Linked DNA regions of Homo sapiens: all the other regions are linked to region 2. The links come from fine-mapping of genetic effects on gene expression. A gene starts in region 2. Each other region holds a variant in brackets. All regions are shown on one strand. Distances are from middle to middle.

Region 1 (5,077 bases), 22 kb after region 2:
TTCATTCTGATACAGGAGAAGGGTGGAAATTTATGCCACCTTCACAAAGGGAAATTTATGTCCTGCTTCTAGGCAGAAAAGGAAAGGGCAGAGAGCTCTTCTTACAACTGCTATTTCTCCATTGCTTTCAGCCCAAAATAATCATATGCCAAGGTGGCATACTTTGGGGTGGTATAACCTGATCCCCTTCACCATGTCACTTAAATTCTCTCTTGTCCTGTTGCTGTGCTCAGAGATGCCCTGGGGTTTCAGTGTTGATCTCCCAGAAGAGCCATACATATCCTGTAAGAAACTATGCTCTGTTGGTTAAGAAACAGCCACCTAGATAAAGTTCAAAGAATTCTGCACTCCAGATTGTGTATGTTCCTAAATGTGGTTTGGCCTGGAGAAACAAGGACCAGGAAATCATGGAAAGCCAGGCAGATGGGAGTTAGAGAGCCTGGCAAGGGTCCTAAACAAGTGCTCCGTGCCTACCCTCCCACTACCCCCTGCCCATCTCTCCAGGAAGTGGTACTCAAACTCGAGCATGTGTTAGAATCACCCAGAAGGCTTATGAAAACAGATCCCAGGTCTTTGCCCACAGAATTTCAGATTTAGTAGATCTAGAATGCCCAGTAATTTGCAATTCTAACACGCTCTCTAGATGTAGCCTTGCTTCTGGTCAGAGACACCCTGAGTAGCACTGCTCTAGGGTGGTGAGACTCTCTGTCTTCCAGACAGGCTTTAAACTGACAAAAGACAGATGAACAGAGGAAAAGGCATTCATTTTATGGATGTTAATATTTTTACATAAATGGGGGCTTCACAGAAAAGAAGTGAAGAGCCAAAGAAGCAGTTAGACCTGGAGCTTATATATCATTTTAACAAAGGGGGATAAATTGTGGCCAGGTGATTAGATAAAAGAAAGGGGTTTGGGCTCCCCACTCTTTCTCCAGTGGGGAGAAAGAAGCTGCTGTGGGTGAAGTTTTACTGGGGATCTGGAGGAGGAGAAGGGGCCATGCTCATATCTGTATCTAGGTGCTAGAAAGAGAACAGCTGAGATTTTCCATAAACTGTCAGTACTAGTCAGGCTGAATCAGAGTGAATCTTTGGAATAGAAAAAAAATAAAGATTTTGCTTTCTCATCATCATAACACTCTTCTATTCAGTCTAGGCATAGCTAGTGCAACCTTTTGCTCCACCCAACCAGCTCCATTCCCTTTATCAATTATTTATAATATGCTTGGGTCACTCACGGGAGAAAAACACTGTCAGCATCAAGAGGTAGCAGAATTTTCAAAATACATTTTGCTGTCTTGAACAAAAAGTTTAACTATTTATTAGTCAGTAGTTCCATATGGTCTTATACTTTTTTCTGAGTCACAGTTTCACTGTGTCGCCCAGGCTGGAGTGCAGTGGTGTGATCTCCACTCACTATAACCTTCACCTCCTGGTTTAAGTAATTCTTGTGCCTCAGCCTGTAGCTGGGACTACAGGCGTGCGTCACCATGCCTGGCTAATCTTTCATATTTTTGGTAGATATGGGGTTTTGCCATGTTGCCCAGGCTGGTCTAGAACTCCTGACCTCAGGTAATCCACTCTCCTCAGCCTCCCAAAGTGCTGGGATTACAGGTGTGAGCCACCACACCCGGCCTGGTCTTATTACTTCTATACATAAGACAGGATCTTTCAACATTTATGTAGGTTAATATTTCCCATGTTTTTTGAGGATTCCCAAAAGACTTTGGGGGTTGCCAAAAAACTTTTAGGGGTTGAATCTTTTCGCAGTAACAGAAAGGGGAAACATCAATCCATGAGAGTTCAGACCAGCAGTTTAATAACACCCTCTTTCATAGCTCAGTTCCCAGTGCATGAAGAGATTCAAAGCAATCTTCTTGTTCTCAGTTCTTAGAAAGAAAAATTTGAGAGAGATAAAAGCAGTAATTATCTGTATTATTTAATAACTTAAATGTAATAGCCTAAGAAAAAACAGATGTCAAAAATATATAGTCTAAAAAAATAGAAGCTAAATCCTTTCCTCCTAGGATGTCTGAAAAGGAGAGACTCTATGGAGTATGGATGAAGCAAAAAAGGAGTGATTCCTACTGTGAAAGATGAACTGTGGACATAGTCACTCCAGACCACTGAGAGCAATTAGCCAATTTCATTGTCACCAGGAGGGCACATACCAGAGAATCTGGGAGAAAGCCTGGGCTAGAGCCCTTAGCATTCTCAGGCTTACTGGTGCTGTGATTCAACAGCCTTTGAGGGGATGAGGAGAACCAAAGACCACCACCATCACTTGTAAAAAGGATACTATAGCAACAACACAACTGTCAAAAATCACCTAGAGCTTAGACTGTATGCTGTTTGAAATCCAGCCTGAGTTGCTTTCTTGTGGAGGTATTGAGACATGTGCAGAGATACCTTAAATATGTGCAGGGGGCCCTTCTTTTTAAAGGACACTTCATGAGCTCTTTCTGCTCATTAGTTTTCCTAAGAGTTCACCATTTAAGCTAGAAAGATGCTGCAAGCTATCTCAGCTAGCTTCTAATTTGGACATAGCCCCAATACTACACACACAATTGAACAAGTGAAGAATCTTCCTGATTCTTCTTTGGACTGAATAGGTGTGATCTTGTTAAGAAAAATATGTAGACTTAGGGCCAGATTTTATCAGTCTCCATCCCAGAAAAATGGTGGAGCAAGCCTGGGCTCTTGCATAATTAAATGACTGGCTTTGCCACAACCTTGTACTGTCTTATCCTGGCAGCAACTGCTTCGATTTATCATCTTCCTGCTGGACTAATGGTTCTCCAGAGATGTCATCAATCCCATGTACACCAGGTGGATTGAAGCCCAGGTTATATACCCTGCTGCAAGGAGGGTGAATCCAACGTCGGCTGAGACAATCTTTAAGTGTTTCGAATGGAATCTTCAAACAGATCACTAAATCCACTTCATATATTTTGTCTTCAAATCAGGGCATTGGTTTGTCCTAAAGTCCTCAGAAAACCATCTGGGAGCCAGTGCTGG[G/T]CATACCTGTTCTCCAACTCTGACACCATTAGGTGTGTGATCACATGGTCTGGAACCGAAAGACTGTTCTCTGTTTATTGTTTTGCCATGTCAGTAACTTCGGTGTTGGCCTTGGTGTTCTCCCGCAAGAAATGGCCATTGGAGAGATGCTGGAGGCCAAACTTCTGGGCCAAGAGGAGCGGCCGGAGGATGACCATGTGCAGGAGTTTGGAAGCCATTGCCTTTGGGAGGAGTGGGGTGGCCAAAGGCGCAGCCAAGACGACCAGAGGGAGCACCAAGAACTTTGTTTCTTGGCCCCAACCTCTGGCACCCTCTCTGCTGGCTCTGGTACTCTGGTTACTCTCCTACTCAGGGAAGGAGAGACTTTTAAGACAACCCCTCCCCTTAGCCCTGTGCGGGGACTAACTCAGCCCTGTGCCAGTAGTCACATTCCATAAAGTCACAGCAAACACTGAATTAGCAAATACTGAACCATTGCTCCTAAAGGAAATACAGGGTCAGGTCTGGCGAGTCTCTGGTCACATTTTCACCAATCAATACATAACCTTGTTTTATGTGTGTTTCTGATTTGGGGACACTTTATTTAATATATATTGTTGATTCACTAATTTTGAACTCACGCCCAACAGCACTGTAACTCATGCCTGAACAAAACGTATACATGGAATTTTCTTTGCAAGGCACATTACAGCCTTCTTGGGCTTAAGGACACTTCAGTAACTTTATGACCAGTCTTGGGGGCCATTTTAAACATTGAAATCATCAATGAAAACCATGTGGAAAACATGACATTAAATGGACCATGACTTTTTTTTCTTTTTTTTCATTTGGAGACAGGGTCTTACTCTGTCACCCAAGCTGGAGTGCAGTGGCACAATTATAGCTCATTGCAGCCTTGATTTCCCTGGGCTCAAGCCATCCTCCCACCTCAGACTCCCAAGTAGCCGGGACTACAGACCTGTGCAATCATGCCTGGCTAATTTTTGTATTTTTTGTAGAGATGGGGTTTTGCTGTGTTGCCCAGGCTGGTCTCAAACCCCTGAGCTCAAGGGATCCTCCTGCCTTGGCCTCCCAAAGTGCTGGGATTACAGGCATGAGCCACTGTGCATGGCCGAAATTTTTTTCAATATGAGAGCTGAAATAAGAAGGCAGAGTCTGTGTCACTTTGTTTGCCTCGGCTGGGCACGTGCACATCCAGCAACTCAAAATTTTTACAACTCTGCGTGTGTCTCAATGACCACAAAAGTGCCATGAAAATTGATTTGGGGATTACAAATAGATTTTAGTGAGTAGACGAATTTGCAAATATAGAATCTGCAAATGATGAGCATCTACTATACCTAGACTTCACTCTTCTCCCTACTTATAATCTATTGGTACATCCCATTGACTGAACCCAACCAGAGGTCAGAATAACCTGTCAATACCATCTTATAAAGGTCAACTTCCTGAGTACCAAACAGGGTAAGCAAGGGTGGACAGTGGATCTGCAGGGGATCTAGAAAATATTCAGCATATCATCCCACGTTATCTGTAGCCTTGACTGGGATCCCTAGGGATCTGCCTATTTTATAAGACATTCATTCACTCATTCTTTTGTTCATCAAGTGTTTACTAAGCACCTAGCAATAAGCTATGTTCTGTGAGGTGTCTAGTAGAGGCTTAAAAATATTAGAAGATGTCGACCCCATTCTCTAAGGGCTCACAGTCCAGAAAGAAGAGCTGATAGTCAACTGACACATATTTGAGCACCTCCTATATTCCAGACTCTTTTTCAGGTGCCCAGGATGTGGCAGGTCCCAAGACAAATCTTTGTCCTGGCATAACTTACAGACCAGAGCAGAAGAAAGGGAAGTGGTTGAAAGACCTCATTGAAGGAAGGTTAGTGCTCTCATAGGAGCATTCACTCATCAGGGGAACAAGTAGGGCAGTGAGCATGGCCACAGAATAGTCAGCAAGAGCTTTCTGGAGGCAAGAAAGAGTATGGTTTGAAGGGCTCTGAGTCAGTGCCTGGAACCCAGATTGGGGAAGTAAAAATGATGAGAGATGAAGGCAAGTATTT
Region 2 (5,077 bases):
ATGACAATTAGCCAAGACAGCATGCTGGGCTCCATCTCTGGGTTCCAGCTTTACCACAACATTGGTGATGTTGTCATAATAGCTTGTAAAACCTCCCAAGAAATCAATGCTAAAAGAGCCTGTGGGCCGTTGTACATCTACTGAAATCTTATGAAGGCTGTTGCTTTGCACTTCAATCAGTTTAATCTGTTCCAAAAGGTAGTGCACGGTCAGAATTTCATTTTCTGGACTTCCTGTAGTCCTGGGGCCAATGGAGGTTATGTGTTCAAGATAATCCCTGGAAGTAACCAAAAGAATAACAAAGGTTTGTAGTTAAAATTGACACTTAGCGTGGGTAACTTTTCCACTACACACCCCTTCCTCCCCAAAAAAGCTTAGTTCTTTGCCTTATATAAAAGGGACCGCCTTTCATTATTTCAGACACCAAGTGAACATCACTTATAAAGTTCCATATTTTTATTGTTGCCTCCCACGAGTTGACCCCTTCAGTTTTCTCCACCATCCCACTCCCAACTTCTCCCCATATCAAACCAATACAAGGACTAGGGATGTATTCAAAACGTGTGACCACTGGCCAGGCACGGTGGCTCACGCCTGTAATCCCAGGACTTTCGGAGGCTGAGGTGGGTGGATTGCTTGAGCTCAGGAGTTTGAGACCAGCCTGGGCAACATGGTGAAACCCCATCTCTTCTAAAACTACAAAAACTAGCCAGATGTAGACTACTATCCGCCTGTAGTCCCAGCTACTCAAGAGGCTGAGGTGGGAGGACTGCTTGAACCTGGGAGGTGGAGGCTACAGACCCGAGATGGAGCCACTGCACTCCAGCCTGGGCGACAGAGCCAGGCCCTGTCTCAGAAAACAAACAAAAAAAGCTAAAGACTAAGCAGGATAGAATATAACTTCACTGTGCATACTCCTGAACGTTACAGATTCTGGGTTAATGACTTTAAGTAGCAGAAACCAATGAGCAAAAATAATCAAGTCAAGAGGTTAAATAAGGCGGGCGGGGGAAACTTTTGATGGACCTAGCCCTCCTAGCATACACCCAAGGTCTAATAACTTCAATTCAGGCCAAAACCAACTGTACCCCTAATGAAAACAAAACTGTTTTTGTCTTTTCACTGCATTCCAAGTGGGGAAAGCTGGAAGTGGGGGTGGGAGACGTTTCAGAAAGTCCTTAATAAGCTTGCAACACTTTGCATTCTAGCAAAAACTTTTTAGAACACAGTAGCTGTTGAAAACTTGACGCCAGCTTAACACTTCATGAGCTTTGACACACCTGGGTTACAATATCTTTGACTTAATCACCTTTCCTAGCATTCTTAAAGGTCTTAAAAAAAAAAAAAAAAGTCAAACCTTACACAGTCACTAATCCAAGGGGCCTAAAGATAAACTGCAGGGATCTGAGAATTTATCAGACTGCATACCAAATTTTGACTGGGCGGTGTTCCAGAAAGAGTTTCTATAGCCTTCAGATGTGGGGGCTGTAACCCTCAGAAAGTTAGAACAGTGCACTAGCGCCTTCCAAAACTCCCCGCCCCCAAAGCGAATTTATACAACAGTCTAGGTACACAAATTTCCATCTGGAAAGCAGAAGGGCTAAGCAAGGTAAAAAGGGGAAGCTGTTCCAGAATATGGGGAGACGACTCACAACCAACCATCTGCACGAAGGGCAGACAGTGGAAAGCAGGTTCAATCTACCTGGCAACCCCAATCTGCACCACGAGCTTAACCGGGGACAGGCAAGCCCCAAGTCCCGGCAATTCAGACCCCAGAAGAAGGACAAGCAAGGTCACCCCACCCCACGTGCAGCCTGGGAGGGGTCAGCGAGTCCCAGCGGTCCGGCAGGGGCGGGTGCACACAGGTGCGGTGCCCCGGAGCCTGCGCAGGAGCCGCAAACGGACGCGCGGGCCGTGCCAGGAGGGAGCGGCCGGTACCTGGCTTGGAGCGCGTCGAACTCCCCGCGGTGTCCAGCGGCCCCGCGTAGCACGAGCTGCTGCAGCGAGAGCTGCACCAGCGTCCGCAGCGCGATCAGGTAGAGCGCGAGCCCCAGCGCGGCGCGCACCTCAGACAGCCCGGTCCCCGCGCCCCTGCTCGCGCCGCCGCTACCCCCGGGGCTCCTCTTCCGCGTCCTCCCGCCGCCGCTGCACCCATCCACCAGAGGCTCCTGCGCTCGGGCCTCCCTCTCCGGCGGTGGCGCGGCCGCCGCTCCCTCTCGACGCTCTACTCCGACGCGGTGCCGCCTCACAGCAGCCGACTCAGAACCCCACTCCATGGCCACGAGCCTCAGCTGCCAGCCCAACCGCCCCAACCCGCGACAGCCCCGGCCGCCGCCGACGCCGCCGTCGCTGCCGCAGCGCCTCCTAGTGAGCGGACGGAAACTGCAGAGGGCCAAACTTCTTCTGATTGGCCCGTCCCGCCGCGCCAAGACCCAGCTTCTTTGGCAGTTCTCGGGTGCACACAGCTGCAGGGCCGACCCAGCAGCGGGTGGTGGATATGCCGTCTCCCGCAGGGCTTTTCCAGCCCTCTGTAGGACGGAGATTGCCAAATGTAAAGACACCTAAAAACCCAAAACGAGAAAAATGAGAGATCGCTTTTGAAAGAACACACAAGGCTCTTACAGTGCATCAGGCAGATGAAAAAAGCAATGACCTGGCTTTCGTAAGGAAGGAATATTAGAACATCAGGCTCCAAAAAAGTGGGTTCCTGGCTCTTAAAATTAGAAATAAGATTACGCAGAGGAGGCCCGGCCTATTGCTTTCACATGCATAATCTAATCAGATCTTCATAACTCAGCAACTTAATCTGTGCTATTACTGTCTCCATTTAACAGATAAAGAAAAATAATGGCTATTATTTATTGAATACCTGCTATGAGCTAAGCGCTAGGTCAAGTCCTTTAATACATCATCTTATTTAATTATCTTTAACAATACTTAAAAGGAAATATCTTTGTTCCCATTTTATAACCTGAGAAACGTAGAGATAACAGATGAAGAATGTAAATCTAATTTCATGGGCTCCCAAAACAGCATTCTGTTCCACTACTACATTAGCACTCTGCAAGTGAAGGTTCAGAAAGGCCATTCTTCACTTGACGACTCTCTGGGGCGGTTAAGCAGCAGAGCCTTGGTTTCAGTGCAGATCCTAGTGATTATCTAGTCTTCTTCCAGCTTGCCGGTACCCATGAGCCTCTCTGCTCCAAGGTTTTTTGTCCCTAGCTTGGAGTTGCTACATTAGCATGAGCATTAACCTAGAGACCAACTGGGAGAGCACACTGCCGGATTTTGACTTAGCACATATGTCAGATTTCATACAATGCCCTATAGTCCTGCTCTTGCCCACCTCTCAGGCTCCTCTGACACCAGGATGCTTCTTATTTCCAGCTCTCCAGCCACACTGGCCTCTTTCAAAGACTTCCTGCACGCATCTTTCCTTCTACAATAGGATCTTCTCACATGCTGTTTGAATTACCTGGAGTGTTCTTCTCTCTCCTCATTGTCTTTTTAACTCCTAGTTATCCTTTAAATCTCAGATTAAGTGGTACTTCCTCAAGCAAGAATCTCCTAATTTAATTAAGCTTGCTTCCCCTATTTGTAGGATCTCACAGCACCATGTTTGCATGTGACTATTTCATAACTTCCTCATTAGACTGTAAGCCCCACGAAGGCAGGAATCAGGTCTGGTTTTACTCACCATTTTATTCCTTGCTCTTAACACAAAGCATGACACATAGTATGTAGTCAATAGATATTTCTTGAGTGAATGAAAAAATGAAAACATACCACTTTTGTGGCAGCAAGCATAATTTTAGCTCTACAAGATCCCTTTCAGTCTGTAAGCACTATGAGACTAAAGACAGTGTCTATCTTATTTAATCATCACTGTATCCATAGTGCTTAGCTCTGGATAAGAGCCTAGCCCATGGTCATAACTATATGTATGTATATATGTGTGTGTGTGTGTGTGTGTGTGTGTGTGTGTGTGTGTGTGTATGTCTGACAATATCCCATGGTACCATAATAGGGAAATGCCTGGCTGCCTGGCTGTTGGGGACGGGTAGATCTGAGTTCCTGGATCTGGTACCTTTAGTACACATGGCATTATTCAAGTTACAATCTCACAGAGTCCACGTGTATTTATCTGTGGTAATGCAGATGATACCTGCCTTAAGGGGCTTCAGTGAGGATTAGATAGATAGACAGATGATAGATGGATAGATAGATGTGTGTGTGTGTGTGTGTGTGTGTGTGTGTGTGTGTGTGTGTGTGTGAAAGATCCTCACATAAGATTCTCATTAAAAACTATTTTTCAGAATTTTCCTTCTCATGAAATCCTTTGTAGATTAGATTAAAAGCTACTTTCCTATCATGATAATCATAGAACTCTAGGTGGTAGGAGTTAAGTTACAGCTGAGTTCCTGAAAGGCAGTTTTTCTCTATACTTGTATAGTCTACGGTATTCACGTTTGAATATTTTTAGCTACTAGTTGTTGGATATCTACTTGTGTCAGATACTGATTAAGGTGGAGAAACAGAGAAGAACAAATCAATGTTTCTACCTTCAGAGAGCTTACATTCTAACAAAGAGACAATGAACGCGCGCGCGCATGTGTGTGTGTGTATAAAATGTCAGAGAGTTAAGTGCCATAAAGAAAAATAAAGCAGGGAAATTGAGACTGACAAAAGCTGCTGTTTTATTAGGGTGATCAGAGATGGTCTCACAGTCTCTCTGAGAAGATGACATTTGAGGTGACCTGAATGAAGTGAGGAACAGGGCCACATAAGCCTGGGGAGAGAATGTTCCAGCAGAGGAAAGTGAGCTGGGATGTTCAGAGGCAACGTCGAATAAGGCATGCACTAAAGCAGACTGAGCCAGGAGCCCTGGTAGATGTGAGGTGACAGAGGTGGGTAGGAGCCAGTGCAAGGAAGGCCTCCTGGCCCTGGTGAGGACTCTGGGGTGGTTTTGAGCAGTGAAAGGTCATGCTTTAGGTGATGTTATATAAGATCACTCAGTCTCCATCCCAGGCAGAGCAGCACAGTGACCACATCTAGAACATATAGGCTTATAAAACAC
Region 3 (5,077 bases), 160 kb before region 2:
AATATGCTGTAAAATATAAGAGTTTGTGCAAATGTCCCTGGAAAAGACATAAGGACTACATAAAAATTGATAATGATTATCTGTGAATGGTGAAACTATTGGCAGTTTATTTTTGTTACTTTCTGTGTTTCTTGGGTTTTCTTCATTGAACATGGAGAAATTTGTCATTCATAAAAAAAAAATTTAACAAAAATTCATTTATGATCCTGTATGAATTTTAAAATTCATATAAGCTAAAATGTTAATTCATGTTTTAAATAGCCCAAGTAAGGATGAATTAAATTACTAGAAGCAGGTCAGCATTTACTCAATATATTTAATATAAGCCAGATTACTATGACTAATATTATATTTATCTTAACATCTCCACAAAGTTCTAGAAATAAGACGGTGGTGAAAGGATAATAAAAACTCAGGACCCCAATTCACCACTCCAAAAGGGAAAAAATAAGCTGAAAGCCCAGTCATGCAAGAAACTGCCTTTCCTTTTGTTCCTGAGCTGATAACTACAGATAAAAGGTTAGGTTACCTACTCCACAAGTAGCTACTTATGTTCACCATATCTTATGTAAAGTGCCTGTTTAATGATGCCAGACGAATACATAATTGACTATTCCCCTACCTGCTCTTTTCTCTTGGAACTTGTGGATTACCATACCCTCCTTCTCTCCCCTCCAGCCCACTTTTCCCCTTTAAAGATTGAAGCCCTCAAATTCATCTTTGGAGAAAGGCACAGATCACAGACTGTCACTGTGATTCTGTTTTTTTGTTCCGGGCATATGCTTAACCTTGGCAAAATAAACTTCTAAATTGATTGAGACCTGTCTCAGATACTTCTTGGTTTACAACTATGTTCTAAATAAAGTGTTGGTGCCACAAAAGAAATAGCACTCAAATATAAAATTTTCTTTTTAATTCTCAGCAAGGCAGTGTACTTCTATAGAGGGGTGCGCCCTTACAGATGGAGCAATGGTGAGCGCACACTTGGACAAGGGAGGGGAAGGGGTTCTTATCCCTGACGCACGTGGCCCCTGCTGCTGTGTCGTTCCCCTCTTGGCTAGGGTTAGACCGCACAGGCTAAACTAATTCCGATTGGCTAATTTAAAGAGAGTGACTGGGCGAGTGGTTTGGCGGGAAAAATGGTTATGGCAGAGCAGGAAATTGGAATGAGTCAGGGTGGAGAATGAGCAGGTAATGGGAACGAGTCAGGGTGGAGTAGGTAATCGGAATGAGTCAGGGTGGAGGAGGTAATCTAAAAAGATTGCTTTATGAGGAAGTTAAGTTTAAAAGTAGAAGGCAAAGAATTGAACTTACTGACATATCGATTCTTTGAAGAGAAACTTAGAACTCCTATCTAACAACTATAAGTAATAAATAAGTGAAATAAAAATTAGATTTTCAGTGGCCAAAAATATTAAATTATTTTGTTACTCTTTATGTACTTTATTTCTTCAACTTACGACAAGTATAATTTCTTCTAACTTCTTTGTTGTCTTAATATTTAGCGTAATATAAAAGGTAGTCACTTAATAAATTAATGTGAAATTATTTCTGATATAAAAATAAAGCTATCAGACTGTTCCCTCTGTACTGTCTAGTGGGAATTTTAGGGGGGAAAAATGTACATACAAAATGGCCTACAAATAACATGGAGGAATCATATGTAAAAACTAATGTACCAGTTGCTTAAACTTTCACTAAACTCTTCTTCCTTTGAAAGATGAGGAAGAGTTTTAATTATATACTGAATATAAAAATTATGCTATTCATAATATGCATACAGCACATTTGCAGTCAGTGGTAAATTATTGATCTTGAAACCACCTTTGCAAAAATAACAATGAGAAAATTATGACAGTAAAAGAAATCTAATCTAACCCCCATCTTGCCTTTAACCTCCCAACTGCCCTTGGTCATTCCTGGGCCTAGGCCATGCTAACTTTAGGAGAAATTTATAGTTTAAATGATAATGGCCCTTCCCCAAAACTAAACCACCTTTGTAAAGCTAACGAAAGACGAGGTCTTGCTGTGTTGCCCAGGCTGGTCTCAATCTCCTGGACTTAAGTGATACGCCCACCTCAGACTCCCAAAGTGCTGGGATTACAGATGTGAGCCACTGCACCTGGCCTGGATAAGCAAACTTTCTAGGTAACCAAAGCTTTATCAGATTCTGAAACGTTACTAATTTAATGATTCTTTTCCTCAAATGTATTCTATAGTTTTTTATCCTTGTATGAAATATATTGAATATGAATTAACGGTGTACTTGAAGATTAAATTGTATAATTATAATAGTAAATTTTGGGAGGTGTCTATGTTCTAGGCACTGTTGTAGTGCTTTATGTGTATTAAAATTAATTTGTTATTCATAACAATCCTCTCAAGGTAGATACTTTTATATTCCCAT[C/G]ATACAGTTGAGCAAACTAGGGTACAGAGAGGTTAAGTAACCTGCTCAAGAATACATGGCTAATAATGAAATGTTAGTAATATTTTGAAAGCTCTATTTCTGCATCATTATTAGAGCCATAGGCATCTCCTTATCAATTTGTATCTTAAAAAGAAATCTCACTGGCACTTTTTTAATGGGGTTTAAAGAAAAAAATTGCTCTACTGTTTTAAGAATCCCCACCTCTCTCAAAACCAACGACTGATCTGCTTTTTGTCACTGCCAATTACTTTGTGTTTTCTGGTTTTATATAAATTAAGTCATACACTGTATACTTATTTTTTCTAGTTTCTCTCAGCATATTTTGAGATTCATCCATTTTGTCGTGAATCAGTAATTCATTATGAGTATTAGTTTACGGATTTCTCACAGTTGGTTTATCCATTCATCTGTTGATGGACAGTTTGACTTGTTTCCCGTTTGGGGCTGTAACAAACAAAACTACATGAACATTGATGTACAAGTCTTTGTATGGATGCGTATTTCCTTTTCTGTTGGGTAAATATCCATGAGTGGAACAGCTACATTATATGGTAGAAGTATATTTGACTTTTAAAGGAAATGTGAAACTTTTCTGAAGTAGTTATACCATTTTACATTCCCGCTAGCAGTGTATGAGAATTTCTATTTTCCTCTATCTTTGCCAACATGTGGTAGGGTATGCCTTTTTAATTTTAGTCATTCTGGTAGTGGTGTAGTGATATCTCATTATAATTTTAACTTGCATTTTTCTAATAACTAATGATGTTGAACATTTTTCTCATTTGTTTATTTGTTATGTGTGTGTCTTATTTGGTAAAATGTGTGTTCAAATCTTTTGCCCATTTTTTTAGATGGGATCCTTGATTTCTTGTTGTTAAGTTCATATTTTGCATCTTGATATCTGTTCCAGTACAATTGGTTGAAAAGATTATCCCTTCTACACAGCATATCTTTTGCACCTTTGTCAAAAATCAGTTGTCTACATATGTGTGGGTTTACTTCTATATACTTCATTCTGTTCCATGATCTATTTGTATATATTTAACATCATTTTGATTACTCTAGATATATAATAATTTTTGAAATCACACAGTGTTAGGTCTCCAACTTTGTTCATTTTCAAAGTTGCTTTTGCTATTGTAGGCCTTTGTATTTCCATATTTTATGTTCATCTCAATTTTTTTTTGTAAACATTAAAACACAGGAAAAGAATTAGAGCATAGATATAAGGGTTATTTTTACTTATAGCATTATATGTAAATTAAAACTACATTGTTTTGAAAAAACTTCCACTGAACAAACATTTTTCTCACCATGTTTACTCTTTTTTTTTAAATTTTATTATTATTATACTTTAAGTTTTAGGGTACATGTGCACAATGTGTAGGTTTGTTACATATGTATACATGTGCCATGTTAGTGTGATGCACCCATTAACTCATTTAGCATTAGGTATATCTCCTAATGCTATCCCTCCCCCCTGCCCCCACCCCACAACAGTCCCCAGTGTGTGATGTTCCCCTTCCTGTGTCCATGTGTTCTCATTGTTCAATTCCCACCTATGAGTGAGAACATGCGGTGTTTGTTTTTTTGTCCTTGGGATAGTTTGCTGAGAATGATGGTTTCCAGCTTCATCCATGTCCCTACAAAGGACATGAACTCATCCTTTTTTATGGCTGCATAGTATTCCATGGTATATATGTGCCACATTTTCTTAATCCAGTCTATCATTGTTGGACATTTGGCTTGGTTTCAAGTGTTTGCTATTGTGAATAGTGCCGCAGTAAACATACGTGTGCATGTGTCTTTATAGCAGCATGATTTATAGTCATTTGGGTATATACCCAGTAATGGGATGGCTGGGTCAAATGGTATTTCTAGTTCTAGATCCCTGAGGAATCGCCACACTGACTTCCACAATGGTTGAACTAGTTTACAGTCCCACCAACAGTGTAAAACTGTTCCTATTTCTCCACATCCTCTCCAGCACCTGTTGTTTCCTGACTTTTTAATGATTGCCATTCTAACTGGTGTGAGATGATATCTCATAGTGGCTTTGATTTGCATTTCTCTGATGGCCAGTGATGATGAGCATTTTTTCATGTGTTTTTTGGCTGCATAAATGTCTTCTTTTGAGAAGTGTCTGTTTGTATCTTTCGCCCACTTTTTGATGGGGTTGTTTTTTTCTTGTAAATTTGTTTGAGTTCATTGTAGATTCTGGATATTAGCCCTTTGTCAGATGAGTAGGTTGCAAAAATTTTTTCCCATTCTGTAGGTTGCCTGTTCACTCTGATGGTAGTTTCTTTTGCTGTGCAGAAGCTCTTTAGTTGAATTAGATCCCATTTGTCAATTTTGGCTTTTGTTGCCATTGCTTTTGGTGTTTTAGACATGAAGTCCTTGCCCATGCCTATGTCCTGAATGGTATTGCCTAGGTTTTCTTCTAGGGTTTTTATGGTTTTAGGTCTAACATTTAAGTCTTTAATCCATCTTGAATTAATTTTTGTATAAGGTATAAGGAAGGGATCCAGTTTCAGCTTTCTACATATGGCTAGCCAGTTTTCCCAGCACCATTTATTAAATAGGGAATCCTTTCCCCATTTCTTGTTTTTGTCAGGTTTGTCCAAGATCAGATAGTTGTAGATATGTGGC
Region 4 (5,077 bases), 44 kb after region 2:
GTGTTGATGACTGCTGTTTTGAGTGAGAGAATAGAAAAAAGCAAGTTGAGGGTTAAACATAAACACACACATACACACACACACTCACAGTAAGGTATGCAGATCCACATGAAGAAAAGAAGAGCATAAAATGAAAAATTTCCCATCTCTACAGTAAAACACCCAAACAAAACAAATAAATTCCCAAAACATCTGCTTCTGGCCTCAGTGTACGTAGTTGGAAGAGGGAAAGGAAAGATGACCCAGAGTTGATGGGGGAAAGATGTTGCCCTGAAGGAAAAGGGAAGGAAGGAGCCCCCAGGGCTAAAGGAAGGGGCTCAGTGACTTGGTCGAGCCTGGACTGGCGGGGGTTACTTCTGCTTGAGAGTGGGGCCTGGAACACCCCTACCCTGGGTGGAGAGAGGAGTTAGAGGAGGGCAAAACCTGCTCAGGGAGGTCTGTGATGAGAAAAGGCCCATGAAATGGCGTCTCATCTAGCCACAAGCCAAGTATGGATCTCAGGAAAGGGCTGGGCATGTGGCTCATGCCTGTGATTCCAACACTTTGAGAGACCAAGACAAGAGGGTTGGTTGAGGCAAAGGAGTTTGAGACCAGCCTGGACAATATAGCGAGATCCCCTCTCTGCAAAATCTTTGAAAACCAATAGGCCTAGCATGGTGGTGCATACCTGTAGTCACAGAGACTCAGCAGGCTGAGGCCGGAGGATTGCTTGAGGCCACAAGTTTGAGGTTGCAGTGAGCTATGATCACACCACTGCACTCCAGCCTGGGTGACAGAGTGAGACCTTATCTCTAAAAAATTTTAAATTAAAAAACAGATCTCAGGGAGGGAGGCTTACTCTCAACTGGAGTAAAGGAAACAGCAAGAGAGGCCATGAGCAAGGGAGCAGCGAGTCTGTGGCAGCAAGCAGTGGCTGCTCAGAGGGGCCATGGGGCAGGGGGAGCAGAAGCCCTGGGTGTGGGATCTTTCTCATGGCTTTGCTGGGAAGCTGTGGGTGGGCTCCCCAGTTGGGATTCACTTTTCAGGGACTTTTCTCTATCAGCTTGTACTTCTGTCCAGGTCAGAGACTGCATGGTTTTCAATCTTTAGCTTGTGTTGGAATTACCTGCAGAGCTTGTGAAAATACTGAAGGTTGAGTTTCTGATTTAGTAAGTCTGGGGTGGGGCCTGAGGGTGTGTTTTTCTAACCAGTCCCTAGGGGCTGTTGCTGCTGCCTGTCGAGGACTACATTTTGAGACCCATTGAACAGGAAGACAATTTTATTTTATGTGACACCATGGTAGGCATGTGTAGCCTCTCATGTAACACTCACCACAGCTCTGCTGGAGAGGTGCTGGACAGTTTGTGAACCTCTGTTATGGGTTGAATTGTGTCCACCAAAATATGTTGATGTCCTAACCCCCTGGACCTCAGAATGTGACTTTATTTGGAACTAGGGTAGTTGTAGGTGTAATTAAGATGGGGTCCTATTGGGGTAAGGTAATCTGATATGACTGGTGTCGTTATAACAAGATACAGAAACACAGAGAGTGAAGAATGCCACATGAGGACAGAGACAGGGAGAAGACAGCCATGTGACAATGGAGGTGCAAATTCGAGTGATGCACCCACAAGCCATAGAATGCTCAGCACTGCCAGGCACCAGCAGAGGCCAGGAGAGAAGGAAGGATTCTCCCCTATAGATTTCAGAGACAGCATGGCCCTGCTGACACCACGCTGTGGCCTTCTAGCCTCCAGAACTGTGACACAGTAAATGTGTGTTGTTTTAAGCCACCCAATTTGTGTTACTTTGTTACGGCAGCCAGAGGAAACTAATACACTCTCAAAGCCAAACTAGCCTTAGGCTGTTCTCTCCAGGTGACTCAGCTGTTCTGTGAGTGCTGTGACTGCAACTGGCGGGACCTGGGATCCCTTCCTGAGTCAAAGAGAGCTATGGACATGAGGTGACCTGGTGCAGAAACATTGCCCAGTGGGGGCACTCTTTCCCGGATAGTGACGATTGGCCTAGCCAGCTCCTTTGACTGTGTGCGAGTGATAAAGAGGTAACAAGACGCATCAGAAGGAGCAAGCAGGGGGCATCCTGCAAAGCCATTCCAGCCACAGTCATCTCCTTAATGAAGAGGGGGCTTGTCCCAGGTCTCCAGGAAGCAGTTATGAAATTGTCCTGTTCTTCCTAATAATTAACTTATCTACCTCATCTGAGCAACCATTTGTGTGCCTCTCTTCTTTGCAATCTGGAAGGACCTAAAAAAATAAGAAGAATTCTAAATTAAAAATTACGATCTTCATTTCTCAGTTGAGCAAACTGAGGCTCAGAATGGTTAGGTAACTTATCCAGGGGCTAATAAACTGCAGAGATTGGTCTTAAACCCCTGGCTTCTATTTTACCATCGCATTCAAGTTATCTCTCAGGGGAAAGGCCCACGCAGAGTCTCTTGGTGTGAGGTGGCTTCTACTGTGAGCACCCCACATATCAGACTATGTGCCCTGCAGAATGCACAATGGCCACACCATGGGCTTGGGCAGGGGCCAGCAAGCAGTTTCCTCAACAAGCTACTAAGAAAAAGGTGGCTGCTCCCTCTCTGTCTTTGG[C/G]GCCCAGAGCTTGCCTCATTCTTGCCTCATGCATGTCTGCATCATTCATTCAACAAGCACTTATTAAATACCTTCTATGCTTCCCAGCCTTTGAGTGTTAAGGGTTCGTGCAGTTCTTTAATTTGAGGAGTTATCCTTCACACCCTTAACCACTAACTCAGTATCCCCCTCCCTAAGCAATCAATATGATTTTTACTATAGAGGAATTCATACAGGAAAGGGATTTATGCCTAAGGCTGTCCATGTATTGTCTGAAGAAGGTCTGCCTTCGAAAACATGTGTTCATGTGATGTAGACTATTAGAGGTTCAGAAAGGGAAACAGCAACTCAACAAGCTTTGGTGACTACTGAATCCAGTCCTTGGCATATCATAGGAGCTCAAGAAATGTTATGGACTAGTTGAAAGGATCTGGGCAATGCCTCTGTTAGAAATTATTTATCACCAGGACCAGTTAAAAATCAGTGTCTTCATTTATTTATTTACTTTTATTCATTCAAGAAATATCTATTGAGTCCCTACTGATAATGGAAAGGTGAATGAGTCAGTCCCTGCTCCTGAGAACATTAAGGAATAATCAACATGGAGGGTCCCTGGAACCAATGTTACTAAATAAATAACCGACCCTGGGGAAGAGCAACCATACTTAAAAGGCATCTTATGCTGGACTGTGTTTAGTTCCTGAGAAGTGTCCCCCTTGGGGAGGCACCATGTATAAGAATGGGAGTTGGGCCATTTGCCAGTTACTACTTATGTAATCCTAAATTATCTAAACTCATGAGCCTCATTCTCCTCTGTAAAAGGGGTGTAATAATCACACCTACCTGACAGCGCTGCTGTGAGGATTTGAGAAGAATATGAAATAATCCATGTAATAATCAGTTTGCTCAGTTTCTGGCACTCAGTAAGAAGACATACATTTAGTAGATATTTATGGGCTGAGCTCCTTGTGGAAAGGGATTACATTTTAGTCTCTTTGTTAACTACTTCGAGGAATAGGCCCATCAATCACACAAGAGGTGGGATCTATAATGACTCTTCATAATGATGTGGCCCAAAGAGTGTTTCTTGGAGCACCAAAGCCAACAAACACTTTCTTCATAATTAAATAGTTCGAGAAACTCTGCTGGCAATGCAACTGTCTTCTCTTGAAGATTCATAAGGTATATCAGTAGATTAAGGATGTTAGAAGAGTTTGTAATGAAGAAACCTGTTTAACTTTATTTAGTTCAGTGTTTTCCAATCTTATCGGACCAATAATGTACCCTGGAAGAACCCAAACTCCTGAAGCTTCAACTTGGAAGGAGATTCTGGGCAGAGAGATGGTTGATGCCAGAGCTCCTGCCTCTCCTGAGGGTTTCTTCTCCCCCATGGAGTTCTCACTTTACTCTCTGCTGTTGCCATCTATTGACTTCCAGGGTTGTTCTGACGCCTCATTAAAACTCACAGTAGAGCTGATGCTGGCTGAAATATTACAAAGACTTTGCTAAACATCAGAGGGACTTCCAGAAGAATACAAAGAAACATCAAGAAACACATCAGGCTGGGTGCGGTGGCTCACACCTGTAATTCCAGCACTTTAGGAGGCTGAGGTGGGCAGATCACTTTAGGTCAGGAGTTCGAGACCAGCCTGGCCAACATGGTGAAACCCCATCTCTACTAAAAATAAAAAAATTATCCGGGTGTGATGGTGCACTCCAGCCTGGGAAGGGCAACAGAGCAAGACTCTGTCTCAAAAAAAAAAGAGAGAAAGAAAAAGAGAAAAAAGAAACACATCAAAGCCTGATGGGAGTTGCAGCCCCCACACAGCCGGCTGCTGGCAGGCATTGTCCCCTTGAGACCCTGCCTCCTTTTCATCCCTAAAGGGCTGGTTGACCCATGATCAACCCAATCCCAATCCCCAATGCCAGCGGCCCCAAAGGAACCTGACCCTTGATGACCGCCCACACTGGTCTGGTGGCCACCGCTGGCTCTTTAAGATATGCTTGGGCCCTTGAAGCTTCTCTTAATTAACTGACAAGCAGACACTGGGCTGGACCAATTAAATGAGCTCAGGGATGACTCACTGGAAGGAAATGCAGAGATACAGAACCAGATAATCTGACTCACATGGTCAGCCTCTCTAGGTTCTAGCTTATTTACCTGCAGAATGTCAGAGATAATGGATTTATCCGACCTCTGACTATAATTCTAAAAAATCCCATAGCTCGGATCTCCCTGTCAGATAATAAGTCAGTTCTACTGAATTATTTTTTAATGTAACAAGACAAAAATGCTACGTAGAACTTACTTCTTTCTGAGACAGAATCTCGCTCTGTCTCCCAAGCTGGAGTGCAGTGGTATGATCTCAGCTCACTGCAACCTCCGCCTCCCGGGTTCCAGAGATTCTCCAACTTCAACCTCCCAAGTAGCTGGGATTACAGGCACACAGCACCATGCCCAGCTAACTTTTTTTATTTTTAGTAGAGACAGGGTTTCACCATGTTGG
Region 5 (5,077 bases), 150 kb before region 2:
TGGGTCTTGAGTCTTTATCCAATTTGCCAGTCTGTGTCTTTTAATTGGAGCATTTAGCCCATTTACATTTAAGGTTAATATTGTTATGTGTGAATTTGATCCTGTCATTATGATGTTAGCTGGTTATTTTGCTTGTTAGTTGATGCAGTTTCTTCCTAGCCTTGATGGTCTTTACAATTTGGCATGTTTTTGCAGTGGCTGGTACCAGTTTTTCCTTTCCACGTTTAGTGCTTCTTTCAGGAGCTCTTTTAAGGCAGGCCTGGTGGGGACAAAATCTCTCAGCATTTGCCTGTCTGTAAAGGATTTTATTTCTCTTTCACTTATGAAGCTTAGTTTGGCTGGATATGAAATTCTGGGTTGAAAATTCTTTTCTTTAAGAATGTTGAATATTGGCCCTCACTCTCTTCTGGCTTGTCGAGTTTCTGCCAAGAGATCGGCTGTTAGTCTGATGGGCTTCTCTTTGTGGGTAACCCGACCTTTCTCTGTGGCTGCCCTTAACATTTTTTCCTTCATTTCAACTTTGCTGAATCTGACAATTATGTGTCTTGGAGTTGCTCTTCTCAAGGAGTATCTTTGTGGCGTTCTCTGTATTTCCTGAATTTGAATGTTGGCCTGCCTTGCTAGATTGGGGAAGTTCTCCTGGATAATATCCTGCAGAGTGTTTTCCAACTTGGTTCCATTCTCCCCGTCACTTTCAGGTCAGGTACACCAATCAGACATAGATTTTGTCTTTTCACATAGTCCTATATTTCTTGGAGGCTTTGTTCGTTTCTTTTTATTCTTTTTTCTCTACACTTCTCTTCTCGCTTCATTTCATTCATTTCATCTTCCATCGCTGATACCCTTTCTTCCAGTTGATCGCATCGGCTACTGAGGCTTGCGCATTCGTCACGTAGTTCTCGTGCCATGGGTTTCAGCTCCATCAGGTCCTTTAAGGACTTCTCTCCATTGGTTATTCTAGTTAGCCATTCGTCTAATTTTTTTTCAAGGTTTTTAACTTCTTTGCCATTGGTTCGCACAGAGTAATTTGATTTTCTGAAGCCTTCTTTCAACTCGTCAAAGTCATTTTCCATCAAGCTTTGTTACATTGTTTGTGAGGAGCTGCGTTCCTTTGGAGGAGAAGAGGCACTCTGATTTTTAGAGTTTCCGGTTTTTCTGCTCTGTTTTTTCCCCGTCTTTGTGGTTTTATCTACCTTTGGTCTTTGATGATGGTGACGTACAGGTGGGTTTTTGGTGTGGATGTCCTTTCTGATTGTTAGTTTTCCCTCTAACAGTCAGGACCCTCAGCTGCAGGTCTGTTGGAGTTTGCTGGAGGTCCACTCCAGACGCTGTTTGCCTGGGTATCAGCAGCAGTGGCTGCAGAACAGTGGATATTGGTGAACCTCAAATGCTGCTGCCTGATCGTTGCTCTGGAAGTTTTGTCTCAGAGGAGTACCCGGCCGTGTGAAGTGTCAGTCTGTCCCTACTGGGGGGTGCCCCTCAGTTATGCTACTCAGGGGTCAGGGACCCACTTGAGGAGGCAGTCTGCCGGTTCTCAGATCTCAAGCTGTGTGCTGGGAGAGCCACTACCCTCTTCAAAGCTGTCAGACAGGGACATTTAAGTCTGCAGAGGTTACTGCTGCCTTTTGTTTGTCTGTGCCCTGCCCCCAGAGGTGGAGACTGCTGAGGAAGGCGGGCCTCCTTGAGCTGTGGTGGGCTCCACCCAGTTCAACTTCCCGGCTGCTTTGTTTACCTACTCAAGCCTCGGGAATGGCGGGCGCCCCTCCCCCAGCCTCGCTGCCACCTTGCAGTTTGATCTCAGACTGCTGTGCTAGCAATGAGCGAGGCTCCGTGGGCATAGGACCCTCCGAGCCAGGTGCGGGATATAATCTCCTGGTATGCCATTTGTTAACCCTGTTGGAAGAGCACAGTATTAGGGTGGGAGTGACTCGATTTTCCTGGTGCCGTCTGTCACCCCTTTCTTTGACTAGGAAAGGGAATTCCCTGACCCCTTGCGCTTCCCAGGTGAGGTGATGCCTTGCCCTGCTTCAGCTCACGCACAGTGCGCTGCACCCACTGTCCGGCACACCCCGGTGAGATGAACCCGGCATCTCAGTTGTAAATGCAGAAATCACCCGTCTTCTGTGTTGCTCATGCTGGGAGCTGTAGACTGGAGCTGTTCCTATTTGGCCATCTTGGCTCCACCCCCCCCCCCCCCCCCCCCCCCCCCCGCCATCTCATCAATTTATACAGAAATGTCTGCTGGGAGTTTGATTGGGATTACATTGAATCTTTGGATCCATTTGGGGAGAGTTGCTATCTTAGCAATATAAACAAGAT[G/A]TATTTCTCCATTGAAGTATTTTTACTTTCAGCACTGTTTTCTAGTTATCAGTGTACAAGTATTTCATCTCTTTTGCCAGATTTATCCATATCTCACAACTTTAATGTTACTGATTTTTTTCATTTTCTAATTGTTCTTATTAGTATGTAAAAATGCAGTTGATTTTTCTATATTTGTCTTGTGTCCAGCAGTCATACTAAACTCACTTATTATAGTTAATTCCATTAGGAGTCCTATGCAAATGACCATATCAAAAACAGTTTTACTTTTTCTCCCCAATTTATATACCTTTTCTTTTTCTTGTCTGAATTTACTGCCTAGAGTCTAGACAGTGTTGAATATGATGAAGGCATTCAGTCTTTTACCATTAAGAATGATGTTATAAATATTTTATAAATCTCTTTCATCCAGATATGGAAGTTTCCCATTTCTTCCTAATTTACTGAGAATTTTTAATCAGGAATGGATGTTGAATTTTGTCTAATGCTTTTAATGCAATGTATTCAGACTGTCATGGTTTTCCTTTTTTAGTTTGTTAATAAGGTAAATTACATGTATTTAATTTTGTTAAACCCCAACCCTGCATTCTTGGATAAACCTCATTTGGTTGTGATGTTTTTTTTTTATAAGGTTGAATTTAATTTGCTATAATTTTGTTTAGAATATGTTAATGAGGGAAGGAGAACTACAAACCACTGCTCAAGGAAATAAAAGAGGATACAAACAAATGGAAGAACATTCCATGCTCATGGGTAGGAAGAATCAATATCGTGAAAATGGCCATACTGCCCAAGGTGATTTACAGATTCAATGCCATCCCCATCAAGCTACCAATGAGTTTCTTCACAGAATTGGAAAAAACTACTTTAAAGTTCATATGGAACCAAAAAAGAGCCCGCATCGCCAAGTCAATCCTAAGCCAAAAGAACAAAGCTGGAGGCATCACACTACCTGACTTCAACTATACTACAAGGCTACAGTAACCAAAACAGCATGGTACTGGTACCAAAACAGAGATATAGATCAATGGAACAGAACAGAGCCCTCAGAAATAACGCCACATACCTACAACTATCTGATCTTTGACAAACCTGAGAAAAACAAGCAATGGGGAAAGGATTCCCTATTTAATAAATGGTGCTGGGAAAACTGGCTAGCCATATGTAGAAAGCTGAAACTGGATGCCTTCCTTACACCTTATACAAAAATCAATTCAAGATGGATTAAAGATTTAAATGTTAGACCTAAAACCATAAAAACCCTAGAAGAAAACCTAGGCATTACCATTCAGGACATAGGCATGGGCAAGGACTTCATGTCTAAAACACCAAAAGCAATGGCAACAAAAGCCAAAATTGACAAATGGGATGTAATTCAACTAAAGAGCTTCTGCACAGCAAAAGAAACTACCATCAGAGTGAACAGGCAACCTACAACATGGGAGAAAATTTTTGCAACCTACTCATCTGACAAAGGGCTAATATCCAGAATCTACAATGAACTCAAACAAATTTACAAGAAAAAAACAAACAAACCCATCAAAAAGTGGGCGAAGGACATGAACAGACACTTCTGAAAAGAAGACATTTATGCAGCCAAAAAACACATGAAAAAATGCTCATCATCACTGGCCATCAGAGAAATGCAAATCAAAGCCACTATGAGATATCATCTCACACCAGTTAGAATGGCAATCATTAAAAAGTCAGGAAACAACAGGTGCTGGAGAGGATGTGGAGAAATAGGAACAGTTTTACACTGTTGGTGGGACTGTAAACTAGTTCAACCATTGTGGAAGTCAGTGTGGCGATTCCTCAGGGATCTAGAACTAGAAATACCATTTGACCCAGCCATCCCATTACTGGGTATATACCCAAATGACTATAAATCATGCCGCTATAAAGACACATGCACACGTATGTTTATTGTGGCACTATTCACAATAGCAAAGACTTGAAACCAACCCAAATGTCCAACAATGATAGACTGGATTAAGAAAATGTGGCACATATACACCATGGAATAGTATGCAGCCATAAAAAATGATGAGTTCATGTCCTTTGTAGAGACATGGATGAAATTGGAAATCATCATTCTCAGTAAACTATCACAAGAACAAAAAACCAAACACCGCATATTCTCACTCATAGGTGGGAATTGAACAATGAGATCACAGGGAGACATGAAGGGGAATATCACACTCTGGGGACTGTGGTGGGGTGGGGGGAGGGGGGAGGGATAGCACTGGGAGATATACCTAAGGCTAGATGACGAGTTAGTGGGTGCAGCGCACCAGTATGGCACATGTATACATATGTAACTAACCTGCACAATGTGCACATGTACCCTAAAACTTAAAGTATAATAATAAAAAAAAAGAATATGTTAATGAGGGATCTTGGCCTGTAGTTATAATGTCTTTGTCTGGTTTTGTTATGAGGCCTCATAAAATGAGATAGGAAGTGGTTCCTTCTCTTTGGTGTTCTGGAAGAGTCTGTATTCAACTGATATTATTTATTTCTTAAAGAGTTGGTAGAATTTACCAGTGATGCTGTCTCAGCCTAGAATTTTCTTTGTGGAAAGGATTTGAATTGGAATTATAATTTCTTTAACAGACATTGGCTTTTCAGGGTACAGATTTCTTTTCAGTGAACTTTGGTGGTTTGTGTTTATCAAGGAATTTGTCCATCTCATCCAAGTTGTTAAAATTATTGTCATATTAATAATGTGACCTCATTATTCTTTTAATACCTCTAG
Region 6 (5,077 bases), 70 kb after region 2:
AAGGGATGTAAATGACATTAAATATGAGCTTTGGGCATGTGAATTACTCCACCTTTAACAATCTTCATTAAGCTTGAAATGTCTACTTTTCAACTTCCATTTGTCCACAGAGAGGCTGGTTGGAATTTAGATCTCTTAAAATTTCTCCCTTGGTTAACAATTCCCCTGAGCCCTGGAAAACATCTTTTGAAAGGAAAGGCTGCTTTTTGTAGCAACAGGAAGTGGGAAATGATTTGTAATAAACTGAACAGTGGTTTTTATATTAACCAGTTTTACATCTTCACTTGGAAGTTCAAGGACAAAATACTTTTGATTCTTGGAGAATTTCATGGCCCTTGCTCTCAGCTCAGTTTACACTCATGTGTCAGGGCACTGTGTTTTTCAATGCATGGTCAGTGGTCACCTGCACTGGAATACTTTGGGGTTCTTGCTAAAAGGCAGATTCTGGGATCATCTCTGGTGGTGGGATTCAGGAATCTATATTTTAAAATGTACACCCAGTTTTAATGTAAATACAGAGAACTGGCAGTGAACCGGTAGAGTGGATCATACTCTTAACCTATGGTGAGTGAGAGGCTTAAAAAAAAAAGAAAAAGAAAAAAATGGTAATTGACAAGGGCAGTTTTATTTTTTTTTCCCAATCAGTACACCTTTTATATCCTTTTCCAGTTTATTGCATTAGTTATTTGCAACTTCCAGTATGATGCTGAAAAGGAGTGGTGAGACAGGACATCCTTGCCTTGTTCCTGATCTTAGCAGAAAAGCTTCAAGTATGATGTTAACTGTTGATTTTTTGTACCTAGATATTCTTCAGCAAACTTGAGTAAGTTTCCCTTTATCCCTCGTTTATTGAGAGTTTTAAATTATGAATGGGTGTTTGATTTTGTCAAATGCTTTTTCTACATCTATTGATACAATCTTGCAAATTTCTTCTTTAGTCTATTGATGTATCAGAATAATTCATTTCTCTTTTTCTTTTTTTTTGAGATGGGGTCTCATTCTGTCACCCAGGCTGGAGTGCAGTGGCTCAATCTCAGCTTACTGTAACCTTCACCTCCCAGGCTCAGGTGATCCTCCCACCCCAGCCTTCCAAGTAGCTGGGACCACAGGTGTAAGCCACCACGCCTGGCTAAATTTTTTTGTATTTTCGGTAGAGATGGGGTTTCACCATGTTGCCCAGGCTGGTCTCAAACTCCTGAGCACAAGCAATCCACCTGCCTCAGCCTCCCAAAGTGCTGGGATTACAGGCGTGAGCCACCACGCCTGGCCTGATTTCTCAATATTGAACCAGGTTTGCATACCTGGCATAAATCCTATTTTGTCATGGTATGTAATTCCTTTTATACATTGTTAGTTTGACTTGCTAATATTTTGTTGAGATTTTTTGCATCTGTATTCATGAGTGATATTGAGCTGTAGTTTTCTCTTTTTGCAATATCTGTCTGGTATTAGGGTAATGCTGGCCTCATAGCAATGAGTTACAAAGTATTCCCTTTGCTTCTATCTTCTGAAAGAGGTTATAGAGAATTGGTATAATATCTTTCTTAAATGTTTGGTAGAACTCACCACTGAACTCATCTGGGTCTGGTGCTTTCTGTTTTGGAAAGTTATTATTGATTCAATTTTTATAATAGATATAAATCTCTTCAGATGGTCTAGTTCTTCTTGCGTGGATTTTGACAGATTGTGTCTTTCAAAGAATTGTTACATTCACCTAGGTTTTCAAATTTGTGAGCATAGTTCATAGTATTCCTTGCTTATCCTTTTCATGTCCATTATTATTTCTGATAATAGTAGTTTGTGCCTTTTTATTTCTTAGCCTAGCTAAAGGCTTATCAATTTTATTGATCTTTTCCCAGAATCAGCATTTGGTTTCATTGATTTACTCTACTGACTTTTTTTTCTTTCTTTCTTTCCTTTTTTTTTTCTAGAGACAGGGTCTCATTCTGTCATCCAGACTGGAGTGCAGTGGCACAATCATAGCTCACTGTTACCTTGAACTCCTGGGCTCAAGCACTCCAATCCTCCTGGCTCAGCCTCCTGAGTAGCTAGGACTACAGCTAGCTACCATAGTAGCTAGGATTATAGCATGTGCCTCCAGGTCTGATTAATTTTCTTTTTTTTTTTTTTAATTTGTAGAGACAGAGTCTCACTATGTTGCTCTGGTTGGTCTCAAACTCCTGGCTTCAAGCAGTCCTCCTGCCTTGCCCTCCCAAAGTACTGGCATTATAGGCATGAGCCATTGTGCTCTGCTGATTTCTTGTTTTCAATTTCATTGATTTCTGCTCTAATTTTTATTTTTCCGCTTACTTTGGATTTAATTTGCTGTTCTCTTTATTTTCCTAAGGTGAAAGCTTAGATGACTGATTTTAGATCTTTCTTCTTCTCTAATATACACATTCAATGTCATACATTTCCCTCTAAATACTGCTTGCACTGCTAAGCAGTATCCCACAAATTCTGATATCATATTTTAATTTCATTTAATTCAAAATATATTTAAATTTCTCCTGAGATTTCTCCTTTGACTCATGTGTTATGTAGAAGTGTGTTGTTTAATCTCCAAGTGTTGGGAATTTTTCAGTTATCTTTCTGTATTGATTTCTGCTTTAATTCTATTATAGTCTAAGTGCAAACATGGTATAATTTCTATTCTTTTAAATTTGTTAAGATGTGTTTTGTGGCCCAGAATGTGGTTTATCCTGGTTAATGTTCTGAGCTTGAGAAGAAAGTGTATTCTG[T/C]TGTCGTTGGATGAAGTAGCCTACAGATGTCTATTATATCTAGTTAATCGAAGATTTTGTTGAGTTCCACTCTGTCACAGTATATAATTCCTTTTATATATTGTTAGGTTTGATTTGCTAATATGTTGTTGAGTTTTTTTGCATCTATATTTATGAGAGATAACGAATTGTCATTTTCTTTTCTTGTAATATCTTTGTTTTTGATATTAGGGTAATGTTGGCCTCATACAATGAGTTAGTCCTTACTGATTTTTTACCTGCTGGCTTTGTGTTATTTCTGATAGAGAGATGTTGAAGCCTCCAACTGTAACTCCAACTTCATAGTGGATGCAACTATTTTTCCTTGCAGTTCTATCAGTTTTTATCTCATGTATTTTGATGCTGTGTTCTTAGGTACATGCAATGTTAGGTGTTCTTATGTCTTCTTGGAGAATGAACACCTTTATCGTTATGTAATATCCCTCTTTATCCCTGATAACTTTCCTTGAAATCTCCTTCTGAAACTAATATAGGAACTCCTACTTTCTTTTCATTAGTGTTAGCATGGTATATCTTTTTCTATGCACTTACTTTTTTTTTTTTGAGACAGAGTCTCGCTGTGTCACCTAGACTGGAGTGCAGTGGTGTGATCTCAGCTCACTGCAACCTCCACTTCCTGGGTTCAAGTGATTCTCCTGCCTCAGCCTCCCAAGTAGCTGGTATTACAGGTGTGCGCCACCAAGCCTGGCTAAGTTTTGTATTTTTAGCAGAGATGGGGTTTCACCATGTTGCCCAGGCTGGTCTTGAACTCCTGAGCTCAGGCAATCCGCCTGCCTTGGTCTCCCAAAGTGCTTGGGATTACAGGTGTGAGCCACCATGCCTGGCCTCTATCCACTTACTTTTAATGTACATGTATGTGTCTTTATATTTAAAGAGGGTTTCTTGTAGAGAACACATAGTTGGGTCTTGTTTGTTGATCCACTCTGACAATCTGTCTTTTAATTGGTGCATTTAGACCATTGATATTCAAAGTAGTTATTGATATAGTTGGATTGATATCTACCATATTGTTACTGTTTTCTACCTGTTGCCTCTGTTCTTTGTTTCTATTTTTGTCTTTACTCTTTTTCTGCCTTTTGTGATTTTCACTGGACATTTTATATGATTCCATTTTCTCTCCTTTCTTGGCATATCAGTTATACTTTTTTCTTTTTGAGACAGAATCTCACTCACTCTGTCGCCCAGGCTGGAGTGCAGTGGCACGATCTCAGCTCACTGCCACCTCTGCCTCCCAGGTTCAAGTGATTCTCCTGTCTCAGCCTCCTGAGTAGCTGAGATTAAAGGTGCATACTACTATGCTCATCTAATTTTTGTATTTTTAGTAGAGACGGGGTTTCATCATGTTGGCCAGGCTGGAACTCGACCTCAAGTGATCCACCCACTTGGCCTCCCAAAGTGCTAGGATTACAGGCGTGAGCCACCGCGCCCAGTCCAGTTACACTTCTTTTTTTTTTTTTTTGAGACGGAGTCTCACTCCGTTGCCCAGGCTGGAGTGCAGTGGTATGATCTGGGCTCACTGCAAGCTCTGCCTCCTGGGTTCATGCCATTCTCCTGACTCAGCCTCCCAAGTAGCTGGGACTACAGGTGCCCGCTACCATGCCTGGCTAATTTTTTGTATTTATAGTAGAGATGTCATTTCACTGTGTTAGCCAGGATGGTCTCAATCTCCTGACCTCGTGATCCACACGCCTTGACCTCCCAAAGTGCTGCGATTACAGGTGTGAGCCACCGTGCCCGGCCTTATACTTCTTTTTTACTTTTTTTCAGTGGTTTCCCTAGAGTTTGCAACATACATTTACAACTAATTCAAATCCACTTTCAAATAACACTATACCATTTCATAGGCATTATGAGTATCTTAAAATAATCCTAATTCCTTCCTCCTGTAAACTAAAAACAAAATCCTAAATCCTCCAAACAACTGAATGGACCCCCTCTTCACCAAGGGGACCCCAGGGAAACCTGAAAAACTGAGTGTTGGCCATGACGGGAAGGGAGGTGAGAGATGCCTCATTATACTCCCTCCCTTTTAGAGTTTTAGGTACAACTGACCAGCATTAATTTTAAAATAGAGATTACAGGACTGACAGAATGAACTCTTTGTGGCAATATCAAATTAGGAACAAGACAATGCAAGGAAAGGGTTAAATCATGCCCTTCAAACCATAAAAAAATTTTTTTTTAATTAACCCCATATAATGTGGTATACTTTCCAAACTGACTCTGGTATAGCATCACATGACAGATTGCAGACTCCCTTACCTTAAGCATTCCTTTATACTGACTTCAAGTCTTAA

Evidence for each region. PIP is the estimated chance that this variant, and not a neighbour inherited with it, causes the effect. A credible set is the group of variants that fine-mapping cannot tell apart.
Region 1: its variant is the best candidate, but not a certain one, in a credible set for the expression of ERMP1 in sun-exposed skin (GTEx, PIP 0.83).
Region 3: its variant is the best candidate, but not a certain one, in a credible set for the expression of ERMP1 in whole blood (TOPMed, PIP 0.72).
Region 4: its variant is the best candidate, but not a certain one, in a credible set for the expression of ERMP1 in sun-exposed skin (GTEx, PIP 0.68).
Region 5: its variant is the best candidate, but not a certain one, in a credible set for the expression of ERMP1 in blood mononuclear cells (TOPMed, PIP 0.70).
Region 6: its variant is the best candidate, but not a certain one, in a credible set for the expression of ERMP1 in breast (GTEx, PIP 0.58).

What each region holds. Positions count from the first base shown.
Region 1 is chr9:5,853,194-5,858,270 of GRCh38, forward strand. It overlaps a transcript of ERMP1 not described here and the pseudogene AK4P4. Among named protein-coding and RNA genes, the nearest start is that of ERMP1, 23 kb to the left of the region's middle. RefSeq lists a silencer at 639-688. The variant G/T (reference allele first, on the strand shown) is at 3,016.
Region 2 is chr9:5,830,752-5,835,828 of GRCh38, forward strand. ERMP1 (endoplasmic reticulum metallopeptidase 1) reads right to left here and starts at 2,366. Exons shown (of 15, transcript NM_024896.3): 1 at 1,939-2,366; 2 at 1-277. The coding sequence starts at 2,276. RefSeq lists silencers at 1,933-2,152, 2,233-2,452.
Region 3 is chr9:5,674,089-5,679,165 of GRCh38, forward strand. All of the region lies in intron 2 of RIC1 (RIC1 partner of RAB6A GEF complex), which reads left to right. Among named protein-coding and RNA genes, the nearest start is that of INCR1, 47 kb to the left of the region's middle. The variant C/G (reference allele first, on the strand shown) is at 2,408.
Region 4 is chr9:5,875,051-5,880,127 of GRCh38, forward strand. It overlaps a transcript of BRD10 not described here. Among named protein-coding and RNA genes, the nearest start is that of MLANA, 13 kb to the right of the region's middle. RefSeq lists an enhancer at 4,571-5,072. The variant C/G (reference allele first, on the strand shown) is at 2,592.
Region 5 is chr9:5,682,092-5,687,168 of GRCh38, forward strand. The region is part of intron 2 of RIC1 (RIC1 partner of RAB6A GEF complex); the gene reads left to right. Among named protein-coding and RNA genes, the nearest start is that of INCR1, 55 kb to the left of the region's middle. The variant G/A (reference allele first, on the strand shown) is at 2,320.
Region 6 is chr9:5,900,553-5,905,629 of GRCh38, forward strand. The region is part of intron 3 of MLANA (melan-A); the gene reads left to right. It also overlaps a transcript of BRD10 not described here. Among named protein-coding and RNA genes, the nearest start is that of MLANA, 12 kb to the left of the region's middle. The variant T/C (reference allele first, on the strand shown) is at 2,742.